Linked DNA regions of Homo sapiens: regions 1 and 2 are each linked to region 3. Evidence: fine-mapped expression QTL. A gene starts in region 3. Each other region holds a variant in brackets. All regions are shown on one strand. Distances are between the middles of the regions.

Region 1 (8,181 bases), 270 kb before region 3:
AAAGCTCTCCTACAGGTAAAGGGACAGAAAAATTGTGGCATATTCATACAATGGAATCTTATTTGGAAATGTAAAGGAATGAAATACTGACCCATGCAACAACACCCGTGAACCTTGAAAACATTACAGTAAATGAAAGAAGCAAGTCACAAAAACCCACAGACCCTACGATTCCATTTATATGAAATGTCTGGAATAGACAAGTAGAATAGAATAGAAAGTAGGTTAGCAGTTGTTCTAAATTTGAGTTGAGAATGAGGTTCAAAGTAAATGGGCATGAGGAGTCCAACTGGGGGATGAAAGTGATCTCGGCTGAATTATGATGATGATTACCCCACTTCAAAGTTCCTAAAGACCACTGAACTGACTTGTATACCTGAAATGGGTGAATGCTATAACTAAAATAAACCTAGAGTTTAAAAAAAAAACTGTTAATGCACATATCATTAGAATCAATAAGACTGGATTCTGAGTCCACATTGATAGAATATTTATAGTTGAACAAATCAATGAACCAATAGAGGAGAAATGGAAGCTCTTTTTTACAAGAAAATGCCCACTAATAATGTATTTTCCCATAAGAAACTTCATAATTTAAAAAAAAGTAACATAAGAGTGGAAAAATCTGAAAGACATCTTCTTGGCCAGTGACAAAGCTGAGATCACCAATGAAGGGACAAACGAACATCACTTGGACCTTGTTATGTTACAATGAAAAGGGCATCCTATTGCACCATTGTACCCCAGCCTGGGTGACAAGAGCAAAACTGTCTCAAACAAAAAAAAAAAAAAAGAAAAGGGCATCTTAACACTCCTGTGGAATCCCCACCAACAATGTATAATCTAAACCTAAATGTGAAATATATCTGTAGGGGAAAGAAAAAGAGATCAGGCTGTTACTGTGTCTACGTAGAAAAAGGAAGACATGAGAAACTCCATTTTGATCTGTACTAAGAAAAATTCTTCTGCCTTGAGATGCTGTTAATCTGTAACCCTAGCCCCAACCCTGTGCTCGCAGAAACATGTGTTGTATTGACTCAAGGTTTAATGGATTTAGGGCTGTGCAGGATGTGCTTTGGTAAAAATGTGTTTGCAGGCAGTATGCTTGGTAAAAGTCATTGCCATTCTCCAGTCTCGATTAACCAGGGACACCATACACTGCGGAAGGCCACAGGGACCTCTGCCCAAGAAAGCCTGGGCATTGTCCAAGGTTTCCACCCACTGAGACAGCCTGAGAGATGGCCTCGTGGGAAGGGAAAGACCTGACCGTCCCCCAGCCCGACACCCATAAGGGGTCTGTGCTGAGGAGGATTAGTGAAAGAGGAAGGCCTCTTTGCAGTTGAGGTAAGAGGAAGGCATCTGTCTCCTGCTCATCCCTGGGAATGGAATGTCTCGGTATAAAACCCAATCGTACATTCTATTTACTGAGATAGGAGAAAACCGCCTTATGGCTGGAGGTGAGACATACTGGCGGCAATACTGGTCTTTACTGCACTGAGATGTTTGTGTAAAGTCACACATAAATCTGGCCTATGTGCACATCCAGGCACAACTCCTTTCCTTAAACTTATTTATGACAGAGTCCTTTGCTCACATGTTTTCCGGCTGACCCTCTCCCCACCATTACCCTATAGTCCTTCCACATCCCCCTCACCAAGATAGTAGAGATAGTGATCAATAAATACTGAGGGAACTCAGAGACCAGTGCCGGTACAGGTCCTCATTTGCTGAGCGCCGGTCCCCTGGGCCCACTTTTCTTCCTCTATACTTTGTGTCTGTGTCTTATTTCTTTTCTCAGTTTCTCATTTCCACCTTGTGAGAAACACCCACAGGTGTGGAGAGGCAGGCCCCCTTCAATATCAAACTCCAAATGAACAACTATGGAAATGTGACAGCTAAAGACAACGCATAAACTGGACTTTGAATAGGTGAAGGGTGGGGCAGAGGACAGTCATAAGGACTTTAAATGAAAAATTTAACAAATTCGTATATGGAACTGCAGATTAGATAACATGATGCTAGGTAATATGCTATCCAACACTATCTAGTAAGTACACTACAAATACTAGTATTCTTTTAACACATCTATCTGACATGTAATCGGTAACAGTATTATTTAACATAATATCCAATATTATCTACCATGTTATGTGAAACCCTATAACCAGCCCTTCCTAAATGCCTCTTACCAAGACACCCCACAATTACCGTGGTATGTGGGCTTCCTTGCTGCAGAAAGCTACCAATCAGCTGTCTCTGGTTACAGGTATGTTCCTGGTGGTATTTGGTTGATGGTCATCAACAAAGCAAACAGGAAAAATGTAAACACTTGGCAAATTTGGGTAAAGGGTATATGAGAATTTCTTATACTGTTTTTGCAATTTTTCTATAGCTTTGAAATGATATCAAACGTTTTAAAATATCAGGCAACAAGAGACCACTCACCAAGTGACAGGGACAACTTTAAGGCTTTCATTTGTATTATCTCTTTCAATTCGCAAAACAATTCTATTAGGATGACCCTATAAGCACCATTTTAAAGAACAGCAATGGGAAGTACAGAGACATTAACATTCCACATCACACTGCGAGAAAGAGTGTACACACTGCATACGTAGGGAGGCGGACTGAGCGAGGTCAAAGTCCTGGAAACCCTCAGAGCAGGGCACACAAGGCCACCCCAATCCCACCCCCCGGGAGGCGAGCAAAGCCCCCCGACGCCAGAAGGCTCCGCTGACGGGAACAATAAACACCCTCCCCGCCCTCGCACCTCTAAACCTCTGCTCTTCGCCAAGGCTTCTTTTCCCCTGAGACGATCATCGATCATCGGGTGGTTGCGAGCCTCAAGCAAAGGGGGTTCGTTCAAAATGTCCTGCAAGACGCAGAAATGGCTCAAACTACCCCGGTCATTAAAGCAGGAACCTCAGACTAGGAGACCGGAAGTGTCCTCTCTGCGCCAGAGTGTCTGGACTCCACTCCCCAGAATTCCCCGGACCCGCCCCCCTGAGCCAAAGGGCCCGGGACTCCGCAGAGTGTCTGGACTATCGTTCCCAGAATTCAACGGTTCACCTGCCAGAGCCAAAATACCCAGTGTTCCACGAGCCAGTGGACTACACTTCCCGTAAAATGGACTACTCTTCCCAGAATTCTCCGGAAACGCCTACCTGAGCTGAAGTATCAGGAATCCCGCAAGGTGTCTGGACTGCAGAGCCTCAGATGCAAAAGGAAAATGTCCATCACCTCACCCTTTAGGCTCAAGTGTTGCGACTACATGGTGCTCCTCGATTACACTTCCCGCAACACCCACGGGGAACGAATTTCATAGCCCCAGGTTCCTGGTGGGGAATGCAGACTGTTACCCTGACAGTTGTCCTTCCCAGAGTCCTCGAGCGAAAATATTGAATAGAAAGAATTTATGAAGTCTAAATGTCTCCCATGATTGACAGGAGTGTTCTTGGACAGGGAACAAGCGAGGAGATACAATATTCAAGGAGCTAGATAGAGTGACTGTTGAGCCGTCAGATGGCTGAAAGGAGGCTCAGGGTTTAAAGCAAGGATATCCAACTCCAGGGCCACAGACCTGTACCGGTCCACTGACTGTTAGGAAC[C/T]GGGCGGCACAGCAGGAAGTGAGCGGCAGGTGAGGGAGCATTATGGCCTGAGCTCCACCTCCTGTGAGATCAGCCCAGCATTACATTCTCATAGGAGCGCGGATCCTATTGTGAACTGTGCGTGCGAAGGATCTAGGTCAGGCGCTCCTTATGAGAATCTAATGGCTGAGGTGGAACAGTTTCATCCCGAAACCATTCCCCAGTCCGTGGAAAAATTGTCTTCCACAAAACCGGTCCATGGTGCTAAAACGGTTGGGGACCACTGGTTTAAAGAATGAGCCAGGTAGAATGGGTTGGGAGGGGCAATGAGAAGCCAGGAAAGCATCAGCCCCTGTAACTGAAAAGTAGATCAGTGGCTTCCCGTTTGCAACGTCCAGTTAACAAGAGGGAGATCTGGTATAAAGAAAGTGATTTATTCTAGAGCTAGCGTAGGGGAAGTAGCACAGGTGTTGTCTTTAAGTGCACGGCTTGGCTTTTAGAGCAGAAAGCAGGCACTTTTAAAAGGTAGGGGAGGAAGAGGGAAGGGGTCTGTGTGCTGGCTTGGTGCCTTATCTATTAGGCAGTTGAGCTGGCTTTTTCATGGGCAGAAATAAGTTGTAACCAGAAGGGAGAGAGTAGCAGGCACGCTTTCAACTGTTGTCTCTTCAGGCAACCTCCTGGTGAGTGAGAGTTCAGAGGCCAGCATGCTTTAGTTTGTAAATTGACTGTTAATTCTGGAGGAGAGTTCTGGCTTGGAGCACACAGTTAGATGAACTTTCCCTGTAGGAAGTGTCTGGTGAAGGGGAGGTAAAAGTCTATATTTGCATTTTTAAAGGGCTACATAGGAAGTGGGGAACTAAGGGAATGAGAAAAGAGAGAGAAATAAATAAGCTGTCTCTTAGAAAAATGGTGGTTCTCAGTTACAGCCCTAGTCCAGATGCTGTGGTACCACTGGTTTGACAGGAAAAACAAAATTCCAGCCACCAATGGAGAAGCTGTGTCCTCATGGAAAAGCTACATTTAACATTCTCATGGTAGTAATATTTCTACTTTAGATGTAGAAACGCTAAATTTCAGAGAAGTTAGTGAATTGCTAAGTATCTTAAAGCAAGTATAACTGTTGAAGAGCTTGGCATTGGTATCAATCTGACACCCAATGTCTGATTCAATGCCATAAAACTGGAGAAGATTCTATAGGTGACGGAGCATGATTTATTATTAAGAGTTTCTTCCTTTCCATTTCTTGGTTAAAATATCTTCATTATAGGAAACAATTTGAAAACTGGCATATGTTAGTTGAAAGACATTAATAATAGTATAAAGCTAAATCAGGAAACAATTCATCTAAAATTCTCTTTTGAAGATAAACCATATTTTTTGTCCTCCCAAATAAACATACATTGACCTGTCGACCTATATTTTTCTTTTTAAAAAGAGTCTAATGTCCTGTATCCATTTTCCTAAAGTAAAAAAAAATAAAAAAAAATTAAAAAAAGACTGTTCACAATTTTTTTTTGATACAGAGTCTTGCTGTTTTGCCCAGGCCAGAGTGCAGTGCGCGATCTCGGCTCACTGCAACCTCTGCTTCCTGGGTTCAAGTGATTCTCCTGCCTCAGCCTCCCAAGTAGCTGGGACTACAGGCATGTGCCACTACGCCTGGCTAATTTTTTGTATTTTTAGTAGAGATGGGGGTTTCACTGTGTTAGCCAGGATGGTCTCAATCTCCTGACCTCGTGATCTGCCCACCTTGGCCTCCCAAAGTGCTGGGATTACAGGTGTGAGCCACTGCACCTGGCTGACGTTTCACAGTTTGGTTTGGACAAAAATTAAGGTGACTGAGCAACCACATAGTGCCAAACAAATTTTCAATGCCCCCTTGAAAATTGAGTGATGGCTATTCCTATACCAATTACAGCTGTATCCTTACTCTACTCTGCATTCACAAAAGATAAAATTTATTGATACTCTCAGTGGTAGTGTATGCAAGGAGCTGAGCCTGAGATGTTAGGCGGCACCTGGCATCAAAGGTCCCTGCTGTTGCCCACGTCCCTGTGCTCTGGGCCTCTGATGGGAGGAGCAGCCTCCAAGATCTGTGAAATACTTCTGGGGTCATTCTTCCATTGTCTTGGACAATAGGTCCTGGTTTGAGTCAACATGGTCAATCCATACTAATCTCATAAATCAGTTGTTCAGCCACACCCTTGTTTTCTCCAGGACAGGGTTTTGCATGTTTTCCAAAGTAGATAAGCTGCAAATTTTAAAAGTATTTAGTTCTCTTTACCTTTTAATTAGTAATTCCGGCTTTCAGTCACTTCTCACTTTCTACATTTTACTATAGGTAGTCAAGATTATTCAAGATGCAACTTCAACACATTGTTAAGAAATAGTGTCAGCTAAATATTCAATTACATTGCTCACAAGTTCTACCTACCAAAAAACACTAGGACCTGAATATAATTCAGCCAAATTATTTACCCCTTTATAACAAGAACCCCGCTTTCTTCAGTTTCCAGTAACATGTTCCACATTTCTGACTGAGGTCTCATCATAATGGCCTTTACTGTCCATATTTCTATCAACATTCTGATCGTGACCACATAGGTTTACTCTAAGAAGACTGATGCTTTCTCTAGCTCTCATTCTGTCCTTCTGAGCCCTAACCAGAATTGTCTTTAACAGTCCAATCATGACAATGTAGGTTTTTCCTAGCATGCATTTCAGAAGTCTCCCAGCCTCTACCCATTATACAGTCACAAAGATACTTCCACATTTTTAGATATTTGTTACAACAGCAATCCCACTTCTCAATACCAATATTCTTAGTCACAAAAAACCATGGGCTAGCTGGCTTATAAGCAACAGAAACTTATTCCTCACAATCAAGGCACTGGGAGATTTTATGTCTGAAGTGGGGCTGCTTTCTGGTTCATAGGTGGCACCTTGTTGCAATGTCCTCAAATGGTGGAAGTGATGAACAAGTTTCCTCAGGTCTCTTTTACAAAGGGACTCATCCCATTAATAAGAGTTCTGCCCTCATAATCTAATCACCCTCCAAAGGCTCTACCTCCTAAAACCATCTTATTGGGGGTAAGGAATTAAACATGTGAATTTTAGTGGTCCACAAACATTTAAACCATTGCATCAGGTAGTTTCATAATTACTAAGTCATATTATTGTAAAAATAACTCAGCTAACTAGAGTTCAACATCATTACAGTTCTTTTTGTCTTTATGCTGAGGACATATACTCAAAATACTGTACTGTGTTTAATATGGTACTTAAATGACTTCTTGCTTTCATCTTTAGTCTGTGTTATTGATTTGAATGCATTTAGGTTAGTCTGTTATTCTTTGATTTTAAGTTTCCTGGTTTATCTCCATTCTTGATTTTATATTATTATGTCAATCAATAACATATTCCCATAAGTCTATACTATACAAAATGTTATTCTCAGAAAAGTGCCACTCACTCCCCTCCTTTCCACCGCACCACTTCCACAGTGTTGACTCCTAATACCCATGTGTAACCAATTTCATTATTTTCTGGTTTATCATTACCAGTTTTTACAGAAAACATGTAGATTTCTTATTTTCGCTGTTTACTTAAACAAAAGGTAGCATTCATCTAAACCTTCTATGGTCACTCAACAATATATCCTGGAAAATCACTTCATATAGAGTACATGCTTTTCACAACTCCACAAACTCCATTGTGTGCTTTATTCAATACTGCACCCATTCATGGGCATTTCAGTGGTTTCCAATATTTTATTACTACAAACAATGCCATGATACATAAACTCATACATATATATTTTCTCCCTGTTGATGATATATGTTAAGGGTACATTTCAAAAAGTAGGATTTCAGGGCCAAAATGGGAATAGAAGTGTATTTTGTTGCATATTGTCAAATTGCCTTTATATTTTATACTATTTTTCATTTCCAGAAGCAATGTATGAGGAATGTCTTGCCTTGACACTAGCTAACAGAATGTGGTATTTTGATGTTTTTAAAGTTTTCCCAATCTAATGGTAAGAAATGGTAACTAAATGTAGTTTTAATTTGTATTTTTTTTTGTAAATATCATGGAATATCTTTGCATATTTTCTTTTTTTATAAGGGTAGAACATATTTTATTTTACATGTTATTAGCTTGCTTTGTACACTTAAATATCAAGGCATATGGTAGGTAGGCCTCCATTTGTATTCTTGCCCTGAACCCTGTAAATGTCACAGTCAGGCCTATATTCCTTTTTTTCCACATTTATTCATCACATTTATTCACAAGTTAAAGAATTAGAAACACAGCTTTGTCATTTGTAAAATAACCAAGTTGTATAAGATAATCTCTAATTTTCTTTCCCCCTCTAAAATGTTATGACATTTATTATAATAATAATAATTATTCTTTATTTTACTTTAAGTTGTGGGATACATGTGCTGAACATGCAGGTTTGTTACATAGGTATATGTGCCATGGTGGTTTGCTGCACCTCATCTTTGCATATTTTCAAGGACCATTATTATATTTTTTGGAAACTGTACAAATCTCTTGTCCCATCTTCTATTGTGTTTTTGGTCTTTTCTCCTTA
Region 2 (8,181 bases), 120 kb after region 3:
CACATTTGTACCCCTAGCTACTCAGGAGGCTAAGGCAGAAGGATTCCTTGAGCCCAGAAGTTCGAGGTTGTGGTGAGCTATGATTGCCCCAGCTGGGACAACAGAGACCCTGTTTCTAATAAATAAATAAATAAAATAAAGTTACATTTGAGGCATCTCAGTACTGAGATCACTAAGCTGAGGGTGTGGGGGAGGGATAGATGGATCCAGAAAGTCCCAGTTGTAGTGCTGTCACTACAAGAGCAGGAGTGGGACACAGTGGCTCACACCTGTAATTCCAGCACTTTGGGAGGCCAAGGTGGGAGGATCACTTGAGGCCAGGAGTTTGAGATCAGCCTGGGCAACATAGTGAGATGCCATCTGTATAAAAAATTTAAAAATTAGCAGGGTGTGGTGATGTAAGCCTGTGGTTCCAGCTACTCGGGAGGCCGAAGCAGGACTGCTTGAGCCTGGGAGGTCAAGGCTCCAGTGAGCTATGATTGCACCACTCCAGCCTGGGTGACAGAGCAAGACCCTGTCTCCCGGAAAAAAAAATTAATTAATTAATTAATTGAAATAAAATAGAGCAGGCTCCTTGTTGGGGTGGGGGTGGAGGCAAGGTTAACTCTAGAAAAAGACAGAGTTCGACTCAAATAACAGAAGAGGCCTAGCAGAGATCAGCCCTGGGAGTGGATGACCTTGAGACCAGGAGTGTCAGAGGCTGGTTGAGCTGAGAGGAGCCTCTGGGGTAATGAAGATCCCCTCCTTGCAGAAGGAGAAGAGCTGGAGCTGGTGGAGAAAAGCTGTACCCACTCAGAGAAGACCAACAGGACCCTGAGCTATCGGACTGGCTTGAAGATCACCAGCCTTACCGAGGTTGTGTGTGGGTTAGACTTGTGCAACCAGGGCAACTCTGGTGAGTAGGGCAGCCCTTGCCATCCCCAACCCCAAGCCATCCCCAGCTCAACCTCATCATCATCCCAATCCTATTCTTAACTTTACATCAGCTGAACCCCAACTCCATGCCTTATCCAAGTCCCAACCCCAACCCAACCCATCTCTAGCTCAGCTCCATCCCCAACTCATTCTTGACCCCATATCCAACCCCAACTCAACTTCACCTCCAATCCTATGCCCAACTTCATGTTACCCTAACACTGTTCCCAACTCAAACCCAGCCCTGTTCCAAGCACAGTTCCAACCCCATCCCCAAATCAACCCCATCCTTATCTCAGACTACCCAAATCCCCACCCCAACGACACAATTACTTTCATCCTTAACCCAATCCCCATCCTGCATGTTTGTATGTATGGTTGTTATGTATAACTTGCAACTCTGCCCTTAACAAGCTCACACGCATGCATGAGACATAGATGAGATGTCTCAGTGATGTTTGTCCATCTGACTGGGCAGGAGATGGTCCTGCCCAATCCATTGGGACGGGAGATGGTCCAAGCAATAGATACTGAGGGGCCAGGATTCAAGCAAAGACTTGACGTTCTTAAGGGAAGTCGAAAGAGGGGAAGATTAAATGGGCCGCAGTAGGCTGGGAGAATCCTCTGCAATAGATGGTCTCTGACTTGGGCAGTGAAAAAACAAATGTGAGGAAATGTCCATAATAGGCTGGGTGTGGTGGCTCATGCCTGTAATCCAAGCACTTTGGGAGACCAAGGCGGGAGAACCGCTTGAGCCCAAGAGTTTAAGACCAGCCTGGGCAACAACCATAAGCCCCTTTGTCGAATTTCATGGCTTCAGGCTCTGATCATTTTAAGAAAAAGACTTAGAAAAGGTCAAATTTTCCTAAATTCCCACAGGAGAGGAAGGGTGGGGAAGGAATGGGTCCATGGTGCATGGATCCATCCGTGAAAGAGATTCCTCTTTCTGGACCTGGTGAGGAAGGAAATAGGGTAAGGCCAGTCTAGTCATGGTTGGTGACATCAGTGAGCAGAGTGCTGCGTTTGCACTGGGTTTTCTTTGTTCTTCATTCATCCTGATTCTGCCTGGTTTTCATCCATCCTGACCTCAAACACTAATCCGCTGGTGGGGCCAAATCAGATGTTTGTTTTGAGGAAGTGACGAGAGGATGTGGGCTTCCCGTCTCGGTGAGATGTGCTTAAGGAAAGCACCAATACTTGGGTCTAAGTAGTGCATTCAATCAGAGATGATAGCGAAAATATTTAACAATATTGGTCAGTGCTGGGACAAACTCCTGGAGTCCGCTGCTGGGCCTGGTGTTGCCCCTTTCCATGATGGGTCACAGGGACATGAAGGGTCCTGGGGAGAGAGTTGGCAGTGGTCAGGGATCCACCAGGAGCTTAGAGCAGCAGCTATCAATTCAGGAATCTAATAACTGAGATACCTATATCATCCCTTTTTCTTTTCTTTTTTCTTTCTTTTTTTTTTTGTTTCCTTTTGTTTTTGTTTTTTTTTTTTGTTTGTTTGTTCGTTTGAGATGGAGTTTCACTCTTCTTGCCCAGGCTGGAGTGCAATGCCACGATCTCGGCTCTCTGCAACCTCCGCCTCCTAGGCTCGAGCGATTCTTCTGCCTCAGCCTCCCAAGTAGCTGGGATTACAGGCATGCGCCACCACGCCCAGCTAATTTTGTATTTTTAGTAGAGATGAGGTTTCTCCATGTTGGTCAAGCTGATCTTGAACTCCTGACCTCAGGTGATCTGCCCGCCTCAGCCTCCCAAAGTGCTGGGATTACAGACGTGAGCCACCGTGCCCGGCCTCATCCCCATTTCTAATGCCATTGTACCCTGCTTGTGGCAACTTGCATAGTTGGTTAAACTGCACTCAGTACTTACATGATGCTGGGAACACAGCAGGGACCAAGACAGCCTTGTGCCCTGCCTGACTCCATGGGACTCACAGTCCTGTGTGTGTGTGTGTGTGTGTGTGTGTGTGTGTGTGTGTGTGTGTGTGTGTGTAGGGGTGACAGACCCATCCATCACCAGACAGTGACTGATTATTAGGTTAATGCAAAAGTAATTGTGGCTTTTGCCATTAAAAGCAATGGCAGAAACCACAATTACTTTTGCACCAACCTAATAGATTTGTCTGGGCTATGAAGGGGGAAACACAGGCAGAGGGGTCAGGGCTGGGATGAGGGAAGAGTAGGAGCTGTGGGACCCTAGAGGAGATACCTGACTCAGGTCAGGGAAGGTTTCCTAGGGGAAGCAACAGCTAAGCTGGATCTTGAAGGATGAGTAGGAATCAGACTATTAAACAGCTAATGGAGGCTGGGTGCAGTGGCTCACGCCTGTAATCCCAACACTTTGGGAGGCCCAGGTGGGAGGATTGTTTCAGACCAGCCTAGGCAACATGACTCTACAAAAAAATTAAAAAATTAGCCAGATGTGATGGTACATGCCTGTGATCCCAGCTCCTTGGGAGGTTGAGGCGGGAGGATCACTATAGCCCAGGTGGTGGAGGCTGCAGTAAGCTATGATCGCACCACTGTACCCCAGCCTGGGTGACAGAGCGAGATCCTGCAAAAAAAAAAAAAAACAGTGGAAAGGGTTTTCCAGCAGAGGGAGCAGCAGATACAAAGGTGGCCAAAAGCAGTGTGGCTGGACAAAGGAAACAGTACAGTGGGGCGAGATGAGCTGGAAAGCTTGGCAGGGGCATGTTACACAGGGGTTTCTAGACATTGTCCTGGGAGCACTGGGGCATCACAGAAGATTTTAAACAGCGAATGTCATGATCGCAATTATTTATTTATTTATTTTTGAGATGGAGTTTCGCTCTTTTTGCCCAGGCTGGAGTGCAATGGTGCGATCTCAGCTCACTGCAACCTCCGCCTCCTAGGTTCAAGTGATTCTCCTGCCTCAGCCTCCCAAGAAACTGAGATTACAGGCACCCGCCACCATGCCCGGCTAATTTTTTTGAATTTTTAGTAGAGATGGGGTTTCACCATGTTGGCCAGGCTGGTCTCGAACTCTTGACCTCGTGATCCACCCACCTCGGCCTCCCAAAGTGCTGGGATTACAGACGTGAGCCACCGCGCCCGGCCCCCATTTATATTTTTAACAAATTATTCTGACCTCAGGACAGAAGATAGACTGAAAGGAAGCAAGAGTAGATGAGGGGAAACCAACTTGGGGGTGGGCGAGGTTGTCCAGGTGGAGAAGAGGGCAGCAGGACTAGGGTGTCAGGTGTGCAGAGGAAGAAAAGTGGATAGATTTAAGAGCTATTCAGGCTAGGCACAGTGGCTCACGCCTGTAATCCCAGCACTTTGGAAGGCCAAGGCAGGAGGACTGCTTGATCCCAGGAGTTGGAGGCTGCAGTGATCACGCCACTGCACTCCAGCCTAGGCGGCAGAGCAAAACCCTGTCTCAACCAAAGCCGAACAAGAGCTATTAAGAAGCAGGCCTTAGTGGTGGATTAGATGTGGGAGGGGACCTGCAATTCTGGTCATGATGGAGTCACTTGTATCAGACCAACCCTTCTGCCAAT[G/A]ACAGTTGCAAATGCTGGACAAATAATAAACAATTATTGGAAGTCACTGGAGAGCAGCAAATGAAAGGAGAAACTTGGCTGGGCAAAGTGGTTCATGCCTGTAATCCCAGCACTTTGGGAGGCCAAGACAGGTGAATTGCTCGAGCTCATGAGTTCAAGACCAGCCTGGGCAACATGGCGAAACCCCGTCTCTACTAAAAATACAAAAGTTAGCCAGGCGTGGTGGCACATGCCTGTGGTCCCAGCTACTTGGGTGGCTGAGGCACAAGAATTGCTTGAACCCGGGAGGTAGAGGTTACAGTGAGCCAAGATCACACGACTGCACTCCAGCCTGGGCGACAGCGCGAGACTCCATTTCAAAAAAAAAAAAAAGAAAAAAGAAAGAAAGGAGAAACTTGAGGCGCTACAATCTCTGAAATAACAGAAGTGTAGAATTTGGGTTCCACAGACAACCTGGCTTTTTCCCGGAGCGCACTTGCCAATCTGCTGCTGTGGAAGGGAAATAGAGCCCAGACGGAAAGAGAGTCGCTAGACTGAGAAGACGGAGGTTGGAGTTTGGGGCTGCCAGAATGTCTGGAAGATGAGAGTTAAAATCCTGGAATGGATGGGACCACAGAAAAGGGAGTTCCCAACCTGCAAACAAATCTCCCTCAAGTCATTGGCAAGCTCTACATGCACAGGGTGAGAGTCCAAGAAACTTGGAAGAGAAAAATAGCAACTGGGAAGCTACAAAAGCGAACAAGGCTTCCAGCAGACATGTGATGCTGGGGACACAGGTTGCCAAGCTGAAGAGGCCTTGGTAAGCATCTCAGGCTTTCCCCCTAAGACCACCCCAGGGGTAAGGGCCAAAGTGAAATAGACCAGCCCTAAACAAGCCTAGGTCCAGTCCTTGACAGGAATGAAAACCTGACTCTCTGTGGAAGAAGAAAACATCGTTTAGGCCCTTGACAGATTTTTATCTAGAATGTCTGGCGTCTGATCAAAATTTACAAGATAGCTAGGCATGGTGGCATGCGTCTGTAGTCCCAACTACTTGGAAGGATTTCTTGAGCCTGAGAGTTCTGGGCTGTAGTGTGCTATATCAACCGGGTGTCTGCACTAAGTTTGGCATCAATATGGTGATCTCCCAGGAGCAGGGGACCACCAGGTTGTCTAAGGAGGGGTTGAAGCAGCCCAGGTCAGAAATGGAGCAGGTCAAAACTCCTGTGATGATCAGTAGCAGGATTATGCCTATGAATAGCCACTGCACACCAGCCTGGACAACATAGCAAGACCCCATCTTTAAAAAAAAAAAAAACCAGGCCGGGCATGGTGGCTCAAGCCTGTAATCCCAGCACTTTGGGAGGCCGAGGTGGGAGGATTACAAGGTCAGGAGTTCATGACCACACTGGCCAACATGGTGAAACCCCTTCTCTACTAAAGATACAAAAAAAAAAAAAATTAGCCGGGTATGGTGGCACACACCTGTAATACCAGCTACTTGGGAGACTGAGGCAGGAGAATTGCTTGAACCAGGGAGGTGGAGGTTGCAGTGAGCCGAGATCACACCATTGCACTCCAGCCTGAGCGAGAGGGCAAGACTCTGTCTCAAAACAAAACAAAACAAAACAAAACAAAACGCAAGACTCTGTCTCAAAACAAAACAAAACAAAAAACAAAAAATAAAAAACAGTAACAAAAAACCTTACAAGGTATCCTGAAGAAAATAAAAGGGACCAATTGACCAGAAACCAAGAGAAAAATCCAACTGTAGAAACAGAATTGTAGCAACTCAGATATTGGATTATAGGACAGGAAACATGAAAATTGCTACAATCGATATATTCAGGAAAACAGAAGAAAGGATATGTTTTAGCACCTGGAATCCATTTTTTAAAAGAGTCCAACAGAAAATATAGAACAGTGACTCAAATGAAGAACTCGGCAGTTATGCTTGATAGAGGTCAGAAACAGCAGAGCAAAAGGATTAAGGAGCTAGAAGACAGAACAGTAGAAGCATGTCGGTTGATGCACAGATGTGGAAGATAAGGGGGTCTGCCAGGTTTCTGCCCCGGGGACTGGATGGGGCCGCCTTGGACGCGTGGACTTCAAGAAAAAGAGCAGTTGTGGGAGAAGATGGGGAGTTTTGTTTAGGACAGGTGTTTGAGGTATAGCCATGGGGCCTCGAAGAGACAGTTGCGTGTCTGGAGCTCAGAGAGAAGTCTAGACTAGAGAGAGATTTGTGAGTGATGAGCAGATAGATGGAAATGAAGTCATGTCAATATTTACCCCATGAGAGAGTCTATACTGTGAGAGATAAAAAGGGCTTAAAACAGAGCCCTGGCCAGGTGCGGTACTCACGTCTGTAATCCCAGCACTTTAGGAGGCCGAAGCGGCAGGATCATTTGAGTCCAGGAGTTCGAGACTAGCCTGGGTAACATAGCAAGACCTTGTCTCTACAAAAATACAGGAATCAGCCAGGTGAACTGGCACATGCCTGTAGTCTCAGCTACTCAGTAGGCTGAGATGGGAGAATCACCTGAGCTCAGGGAGGTCGAGGTGGCAGTGAGCCACTGCACTCCAGCCTTGGGACAGAGCAAGACCCTATCTCAAAAAAAAAAAAAAAGAAAAGAAAAGAAAAAGGAAAATAGCCCTAAGGATCATTGGCATTTACAAGAGTTCACACCAGAGACCCATGAGTGACCACCCAGAGTGGGCAGAACTAGAAATGGGGAATTCAAGGGGCAGTGGGAGCTCAGAGCAGGTACCCGTTCCAGGCTGATGGGTCAGGGAGGGCTTCCTAGAGGAGGTGAAATTGAAGATGACAGCTGAAGAATGAATAGGAGTTAGAGAAAGTAGGGCTCAAGGAAAAGGTGTTCTAGGTATGAACAGCTATGTTGGCAATGGTGAGAATTTGTGTTTTCATTTTCATGGAAGTTTGTGTGAGAAGACGTGGGTGGCCTTGTAGTTATTTTTCTTTGAGGGGGACGATTGGGCTTTGGATGTAAATGATTCGCCTAATTACAGCTAGCGGCCTGCCAGTTGAGAACCTTGGCTGACATGGTCCTCTCACTTTTTTAAGACTTGGCCTGGACTCAGCTTAGATGTGTCTTGGGTCAGGACGGGGAGGGCATGCCAAGCATGGGAAATGGTGTGAGCCAAGGGCTGGGTAGAGGAATGACTCTGGTGTTTCCAGGGAAAAGTAACGGATCCAGTTGGCCAACACCACAAGGTTCGTGCAAAAGGCGAAGTGATCAGGAATCAGTCAAGTGAGTCTTTGATCCCTGGGACAATTAGGTAGTGTATTATCTATTGCTTATCTATTATCTATTGCTGCATTACAGATTGCAGCAATAAAATAAGCATGTGTTATTTCACAAAGTTTCTGAAGGTCAAAAACCCTGGAGTGGCTTAGCTAGGTGGTTCTGGCTCAGGATCCTTCATGAGCCTGCAGTCGAGATGTCAGCTGGGGCTGCAGTCATCTGAAGGCTCCTAAGGTAGCTTCACTCACATGAATGCTCCCCTCCCATGGCTTTGGCACAGGCCTCAGTTCTGCCACGTGAACTTTCCCATGGTGCTACTTGAGTGTCCTCACAACATGGCTGCTGCTTGCCCCAGAAAAAGTGATCCAAGTGAGAGAGCCAGGCATGTGTTCTATGATCTAGCCACAGAAGGCATACACCATCATTTCCATAATATCCAGTTGACTACATAGGGCATCCTTATTCTTTTCTTCTTCTTTTTTTTTTTTAATTTAAAGACAG
Region 3 (8,150 bases):
GGCCCTCAACCCCTGAGTGGGACTGGGGTAGAACCGGAAGGAACCAGGCTGTCCGTAGATGTGCCAGTGAACAGCAGAGAGAAACTGAGGCAGAGACAAGCATAGAGAGGCCCGGAGAGAGAGAGAGAGACCCAAGAGGAGACCAGGAGGCAGGGAGAGAGTGAAACAGAGACGGAGAGAAACACCGATTCAGCAAGAGACAGACAAAAACAGAGGGCCCTAGAGACGGAGAGATGGAGACAGAGTGAGACACGATGACAGAGACACAGGCAATGATGAACACAGAGAGAGACATGACAGAGAGACAGTGACGGGGAAAGAAGGAAACAGAGGAGCAGAGAGGGACACGAAGATGGAGAAAGGGACAGAGCGATGAGAGAGACACAGAGAGGCTAAGAGAGGCAGAGACAGAGAGACAGAGTGAAGAGAGACAGAGAGAGACAAAGGTACCAGGAGAGAAGAACAGAGACAGAGATAAAGACAAACCTGGCCAGGCACGGTGGCTTACGCCTGTAATCCCAGAACTTTGGGAGGCCGAGGCGGGTGGATCACCTGAGGTCAGAAGTTCACGACCAGCCTGGCCAACATGGTGAAACCTCGTCTCTACTAAAAATACGAAAATTAGCTGGGTGTGGTGGTGCACACCTGTAATATCAGCTACTCGGGAGGTTGAGGTAGGAGAATTGCTTGAACCTGGGAGGTGGAGGTTGCAGTGAGCCGAGATCGTGCCACTGCACTCCAGCCATGGGAGACAGAGCAAGACTCTATCTCAAAAAAAAAAAAAAAAAAAAAAAAGACAAACGCGGAGGTTTCCAGATCAGGAGAGACTGAGACAGGAAGCAAGTCCCAAAGAACCAGAGAAAGAGCCGGAGAGGGAGGAGAGAGACGCAGCGAGCCGGGCGGCCAGTGGGCAGGGGTGCCCAGGCTGCAGGCTCAGGAGTGCCCGGCGGCTGCACTTTCCCCAAGTGGACGCATGTGTGGTGTCTGGGCGCGCCCGGGTGTGTCTCCAGCCCTCTCCCGCCAAGTCTCGCCGAGTGGGTAATTGTGTGTGCCGAGGGGCGGAGCCCCCGCAAGGGTTGTGTTTTTGCCACTGGGCGTGTCCATGTGTATGGTTTGGTGTCTCTGGGTGTGTTTGTGTGGGCTGCCTTGGTGTGCAGTCAGACATGTCTGTGCGTGTCTCGCTTCCCTGGGGCTGGTGGGTCCAGGGTCCCACACGACCTAGGACACAAGGAGGGGGAGGGTTGTGTCCGCAGGTTCCTTGCAGAGGGGTGTGCATGAGGCCAAGGGCAGTGTCACCAGTTCAGTGCATGATGCTGGGAGGTGATGTGCGTCACCAGGTCAGTGCATGCCTGTGTGTCTCCACAGGAGGGTTTGATCTGTGTCGGAGCGTATGGTGTACAGATCCATGAGTGGCTCGTGCTGCGACACATGGAGATGTCCTATGTTGTGTGTTGCTCTGAGAGTCACCGTGCACATTCCACACTGGCATTTGCTGTATCTCACGTCAGGGTCCATGTCCCTGTTGGGGGCCTCTTCCTTCTCAGCCCCCAGCACCCACCCTGAGTGCCAACCACCCCAAGTGTCTTGTGTTTGTGTAGCTGTGTGTTATGTTGTGTCAGAGGATACACCCCCCTCCCCCGATGCTGGTGTTGTGTGGGTGGCGGTAGACCTCAGTGTCAGTAGTATCAGTGAGTGGTGACATCTGGTGTTTTATGGGACATGTGGTCGTTTGTGGAAGGTTGGGTGTGTTGGAAAACATTGTGTTTATGTGTTTTGCGTTACTGTGTGCTGGTGTATTACTCCGCGTATGTTGTTGTGTGGCCACGCATGTTGGAATATAACGTGTTGGGTTGTGTGGAGGTATTGTATGTCATGTTTGGGTGTGGCTCATGGCTCAGAGGTGATGGTGTATGTTGCGTTTGTTTTTTTGTTTTTGCTTGTTTTAGAGATAGGATCTTGCTATGTTGCCCAGGCTGGTCTCAAACCCCTGGGCTCCAGCAATCCTCCCACCTCAACCTCCCAAACTGCTGGGATTACAGGCATGAGCCACTGCACCCAGCCGTATGTTGCATTTGGGCACTGGGGTCTATGAAGGTCCAACCCCATCCCCTTCCCCCAGGGCATCATCCTGGATGTTGTCCTGTGTGGCCAGAATATACCAGAATCATCTTGCTTCAGGCATGTGCTTCTTGGGTTTCTCCGTGTGTCGCTGTACCTTGTAGGTCTCTGCATGCATCCACTCAGCTTGTCCTCTGACCATACATTTGAATCGCACCACACATCAGAGCATGCTGAATCAGTGCGTGTTTTGAATCATCACTGCGAGCACTTGTGTTCGAGTCAACAGGCGCCACAATGTATGTGCAATTCTCTAGCTCTGGGTGATTGGGGGCTACTATAGGTATGTCCCTAAATGTTGTGTGTCTACACGTATTGGGTTTCGTTCCAAGGGTGTGTAGTGTTTAGGAAACTGGGACTGCACAGTGTTTGTGTCGGTGTGTGGTGTGTGGCATCAGGGCGTCACTACTTTAATATATATTGTGTGTTTGTGTAACACCTGGTGTATGTTGTGTTTGTGTGGCCACAGTTGTGCATCGTCCTATTTGTGGTGTTTGGGTGTGGCTCTTTGTGTCAGAGAAAGTTGTGACAACTTTGAGTGTAATATTTGTGCCTGTGTGTGGACGGTGTTTGGGTGGCTGTGTGTGCCACGGGATACTGCCTGCTTGCTAAGTGCTGGTGTGTGTCACACCATGTGTGTGGTGTCTGGGTGTGGCTGTGGGTTTCAGAGCTTGCTGGGAGTTGTGAGTCACTCTGTGTAGGTTGTGTTGTGTGCCCTGGTGTGTTAGTCTCCGTCTTGGGCTGTGGAGTGTCCTTCGGTGTCTGGGTGTGGTGAGTAGAGGTGTGTGTCACAAAGTACAGACCATTGTGTGTGACAAAGCCCATCGTGTGTCTGTGTGTGTCTTTATCCACGTGGATGGACGTCTCTTTCTTGCTCTGCCCCAAGACACACCCTAGCCCCTCCTTATTCTCAAAAGGGGGAGCTGGGGAGCCTCCCCCTACCCTGGGGCCTCCCCTGCCCCTCCCCGCCCTGCCTGGCCGTCACCACTCCCCAGAGGGCACAGGGCTCTGCTGTGCCTCAGAGCAAAAGTCCCAGAGCCAGCAGAGCAGGCTGACGACCTGCAAGCCACAGTGGCTGCCCTGTGCGTGCTGCGAGGTGGGGGACCCTGGGCAGGAAGCTGGCTGAGCCCCAAGACCCCGGGGGCCATGGGCGGGGATCTGGTGCTTGGCCTGGGGGCCTTGAGACGCCGAAAGCGCTTGCTGGAGCAGGAGAAGTCTCTGGCCGGCTGGGCACTGGTGCTGGCAGGAACTGGCATTGGACTCATGGTGCTGCATGCAGAGATGCTGTGGTTCGGGGGGTGCTCGGTGAGTGGGGCATGGTGGCTGGGAGCTGGGACTCCTAGGTCTGAGGGAGGAGGGGCTGGGGGTCAGGACTCTTGGGTCTGAGGGAGGGGGGGCTGGGGGTCAGGACTCCTGGGTCTGAGGGAGGAGGGGCTGAGGGTCAGGACTCCTGGGTCTGAGGGAGGAGGGACTGGGGACTTGGACTCCTGGGTCTGAGGGAGGAGGGACTGAGGGCCTGGACTCCTGGGTCTGAGGGAGGAGGGGCTGGGGGTCAGGACTCCTGGGTCTGAGGGAGGAGGGGCTGGGGTCTGGACTCCTGGGTCTGAGGGAGGAGGGGCTGGGGGTCAGGACTCCTGGATCTGAGGGAGGAGAGGTTGGGGGCCTAGACTCTTGGGTCTGAGGGAGGAGGGGCTTTGGCTGGGACTCCTGGGTGCTCCCAGGAGACAGTTGCTGGGGTCCTTCTCTGCAAAAGGAAGGGAATATTTGTTTCAGTGTTTCAGTCTTTGAAGATGTTGCCATTAGACGGCCAGAGGTCCAGGACCCCTGGAGGCCAGAGGGTGGCTGATCAGACACTCAAGCCCCCCAAGAGCCAATAAGGGGAGAGGTAGCCCCAGGTTTGGTGAAGGGAGAGTGGAGGAAAGACAAAGTTCTTCCAGTAGGCGGCAGCTCTTTGGTCCTTGTCTAACCTCTAATGTTTACCCAGTGCCTTAGATGCAAAGGACAGAAAAAACTGCCTTGGGGGTGGGGATGGGAAATGGGAAACAAACCTCTCCCCCGACCTGCCTCCCCCCACCAACCCCAACCCAGTCTCCACTGTTAACAAGCTCAATTTCTCCCCAAATCTGCATGCTGATTAGTCAGGGAAATAGTGGAGAGGTAGGCTTACAGTGGCCTGGACTCCTAGGTACCAGGAGAGGAGGGGGCTGGGTCCTGGATTCCTGAGTCTTAAGGAGAAGGGGGTTTTGATTGCTTTTGGGGAAGAGGGGCTGACTCCGAAGATGAGTGGTGAGTAGGGAAGAAAGGGGAAAGTGGGGTCAGGGCAGGTCTCAGCAGGCTCCCGTCACATTCCAGCCCTGGTCAGGCCAGTGATGGGGCAGATCAAGGACAAGGGTTGGAATAAGTGGCTTGAGGGGAGAACAGACTTGCTCAACAGGAAAGGAGGGGCTGGAGACCTCTCTGGCAGAAGGGTTGTGGAACTGGGCTGGTAGGGCCAGATGCGGACACTGATATGAAGATTGGGTAGATTCCTGAGGGTCTGATGTTCCGACTTGGATCTGGAGGGGGTGGTGGGCAGCTCTGAAGTGACCAGGAGCCACATGGAGGGTCAGGCATGCAGCTTCCTCTGGCAGGCGGCGGGCACTGAGGGGGTGGGGCCGCCGAAGTCCATGCCAACAGGAAGCATGGCCGGGGCCTGCCCGCCGCTCCCACGCCGAAGCACCGCACCCAGAAGCCGAGGTGGGAACACAGTGACCCTGGCAGATGGGAAGAGACGGGGTCCATCCTACCCCACTTCACCCCTCTGCTTTCTCACCCCTCATTTCTTCCTTCCCTCCACCATGGCCAGGCCACTGCCTCTATCAGTGGGACCTTGGGGAAGCTGTTACAACCCTCTGAACCTCAGTTTCCCCATCTGTAAATTGGGGTGAGGGTTAAAATACATGACCCTAAGGGTCACCCTCCACCCTTTTTATTTTATGTAGAGATGGGACCTTGCTTTGTTGCCTAGGCTGGTCTTGAACTCCTGGACTCAGGCAATCCTCCTGCCTCAAAGTGCTGGGATTACAGGCCTGAGCCACAGCTCCTCAGTCCCCTTTTGAGGACTCTCTTAATAACATCCACCGCCCCTCACCACCTCCATCTCAATCTAATGAGCTCATTTCTGCAAAGGACCCAGACACCTGCTCCCCAGGGGGAGGGGCTGGCAGAGAGGCAGGTGCAAAACCCTAGGGAGTCCAAGGGAACTGGATAGAGATATCCAAAAGCACCAGGTGGGGTGGAGGAGGAGGGATGGGGAGAGGTACAGAGAGAGACAGAGACACAGAGATACATGGAGAGAAAAAGAGAGATGGAGACAAAAATGCAGAAAGATAGAGAAGTACAGCTAAAGAGAAAGACAAATAGGGCTATCAAGCTACTGAGAAATCCACCAGTGAGAGATACACACACAGCGTTAGAAAAGACAATAGAGGGCCGGGCGCGGTGGCTCACGCCTGTAATCCCAGCACTTTGGGAGGCCGAGGTGGGCGGATCACAAGGTCAGGACATCGAGACCATCCTGGCTAACACAGTGAAACCCCATCTCTACTAAAAACACAAAAAATTAGCCAGGCATGGCGGCGTGTGCCTGTAGTCCCAGCTACTCAGGAGGCTGAGGCAGGAGAATGGTGTGAACCCAGGAGGCGGAGCTTGCAATGAGCCAAGATCGTGCCACTGCACTCCAGCCTGGGTGACAGAGCAAGACTCCGTCTCAAAAAAAAAAAGAGACAATAGAAACAAAGACCCTCAAAACACATAGAAAGACAGCAACAACCATCCCTAGAGACAGGGAAATTCAGAGAACAGAGTACAGGCCCAAGTGCAGACAGGTCCGGGATTTGGGGGAAGAGGAAATGGAAAAGTAGAGAGGACCACCAGAGAAGCAAATTGCAGTGTGAGGAGGGAGCTTGTTGTCTAGTGGTGTGGGCAGTTAAGACAGACTGAAGAAAGAGGCAGGGAACCAGGGAGCCATAGAAGGTGGGGGAGGGCTGGTGACAACAGCACTATTGTTCTGATAGGGGGTTGGGGAGCAGGCCCCTGGGGCAGGAAACTGGCCCTCTTCCCCTGCTCAGAGGCGGGATGCTGGCCCAGCCAGGGGAGCTGGCAGCCCTCTTAGGAGAAACAGGTGCAATGCTTTGTAAGGACGCCCAGGTGGTCCCCTCCCCCTGCAAATACCCGCCAGGCAGGGACCAACCCCTCTTAGGAAATCCAACAGTCCCAGTCCCCTCTAAATCCCTCTCTCCAGAATTCTAGATTCCTCCAAGGTTGTGCCACACAAAGAGAGGAAAAAAAAAAAAAGGAACAATTTCTCCGTGGTTTCTGGAGGCCCTGTGCTTCCGGCCAGATCTGCCCTGGGCTTAGAGCCAGAAGAGAGGGGTGGCAGTGGGGAGCTGCAGGGGGGCAGAACCGAGGGGGCTGTCTCAGAGCTGAGGCTGGGTCTCAGGGACTCAGCCCTCCGGATGAGAGCAGAGAAGGGTGTGACTCAGTCTTTGAGGATTGAATGGTAGTTTCTACATTCTTCCAGATCTGGGGTTGGGGTTGATTGAAGTTGGTTTCTAGGACAACACCAGGTGGGTAGGAAGGGAAGGGGAGGGGGCACTCTCTAGAGGCTAGATGTCTTTTTCTAGACACCACACACACACACCCACACACACACACACACACACACACACCTGAAGAACTATTTTTGATGTGAAATGGGACAGGAATAAGAAGGAATGTGAGTTTCAAGGTCCCCCTTCATGGGTATGGGTCTTGGGAGAAGAGCTGAGGAAGAGGGTAGACACCAGCATCTGGACAGGGTTGTCCTGTTGGGGAGAAAGAGAGCATTCCTGGGGACCAGATGATGGTGTTTTTTTGTTTGTTTGTTTGCTTGCTTGCTTGTTTCGAGACGGAGACTCGCTCTGTTGCCCAGGCTGGAGTGCAGTGGCGCGATCTCTCAGCTCACTGCAACTTCCACCTCCTGGGTTCAAGATTCTGGTTCCTCAGCCTCCCAAGTAGCTGGGATTACACACCCAGCTAATTTTTTGTTTTTTTAGTAGAGACTGGGTTTCACCATGTTGGCCAGGGGGTCTCAAACTCCCGACCTTCGGTGATCCACCTGCCTCAGCCTCCCAGAGTGTTGGGATTACAGGTGTGAGCCACCGCACTGGGCCCAGATGATGGTTTTGAGACTTCTCCAGAACCGACACATCAAGAGGGACTGATTTGCAGGGGAAGGAGGCTAGGAAAATTGGGAATCAAAAAAAAAAAATGGTGGTTTTGAAGGAAAGGTGGAGGGCCAGGCGGAGGGAGACCTGGGATCTCACACCGCTTTTTCCGTCCCCCCTGACAGTGGGCGCTCTACCTGTTCCTGGTTAAATGCACGATCAGCATTTCCACCTTCTTACTCCTCTGCCTCATCGTGGCCTTTCATGCCAAAGAGGTCCAGGTAGGGCAGGCCCCGCCCCTAAGCCTTGCTCCCTCCAACCCCCTCAGCGCCCTGTCAGCTCACACTTTCCACCCTCCTCCTCCTCCTGATCTGAGTAATGAAGTTCTTCTGCCCTAGGTGCTGCGTCCACACCCTCACCTACCCAGATGGGATGAACCATGAGCAGACAGGCAGAGCCTCCCCCACCAGCTCCGCCTTCCCCTGTAGTCCCCAGCCCCCCCTTGCACACTCACGGATGCTGAGAGTGCCCTTGCAGCCCTGCTTCCGCCCCCAGGCCTCTGTCCACTCTGCTCCCAGGCACTCAGCTTCCCAGATCTCTGTGCTCCGACATGGCATCCCCAATCCAGTCCTCAAGCAACCTAAGGTCCTAGGGCTGCCCACTCCTTTTTTTTTTTTTTTTTTTTTTTTTTTTTGAGACAAGGTCTTGCTCTGTTGCCCAGGCTAGAGTGGAGTGGCACGATCTCTGCTCACTGCAACCTCCACCTCCTGGGTTCAAACAATTCTCATGCCTCAGCCTCCCAAGTAGCTGTGACTACAGGCAGATGCCACCACGCCCAGCTAATTT

The links.
Region 1: its variant is fine-mapped to the expression of KCNN4 in whole blood (INTERVAL, PIP above 0.99).
Region 2: its variant is fine-mapped to the expression of KCNN4 in whole blood (INTERVAL, PIP 0.93).

Annotation. Positions count from the first base shown.
Region 1 is chr19:44,046,785-44,054,965 of GRCh38, reverse strand. It overlaps ZNF223 (zinc finger protein 223), which reads right to left and starts at 2,930. Exons shown (of 5, transcript NM_013361.6): 1 at 2,771-2,930. RefSeq lists enhancers at 2,704-2,943, 2,763-3,264 and a silencer at 2,984-3,043. The variant C/T (reference allele first, on the strand shown) is at 3,609.
Region 2 is chr19:43,658,030-43,666,210 of GRCh38, reverse strand. PLAUR (plasminogen activator, urokinase receptor) reads left to right here. Exons shown (of 7, transcript NM_002659.4): 3 at 752-895. It also overlaps the pseudogene RN7SL368P. Among named protein-coding and RNA genes, the nearest start is that of PLAUR, 8.0 kb to the left of the region's middle. The variant G/A (reference allele first, on the strand shown) is at 4,439.
Region 3 is chr19:43,775,976-43,784,125 of GRCh38, reverse strand. It overlaps KCNN4 (potassium calcium-activated channel subfamily N member 4), which reads left to right and starts at 3,153. Exons shown (of 9, transcript NM_002250.3): 1 at 3,153-3,423; 2 at 7,490-7,585. The coding sequence starts at 3,265. RefSeq lists enhancers at 1,055-1,224, 1,365-1,414, 3,778-3,907, 4,266-4,765, 5,821-6,321, a cis regulatory region at 921-1,387 and silencers at 2,902-3,171, 5,525-5,574.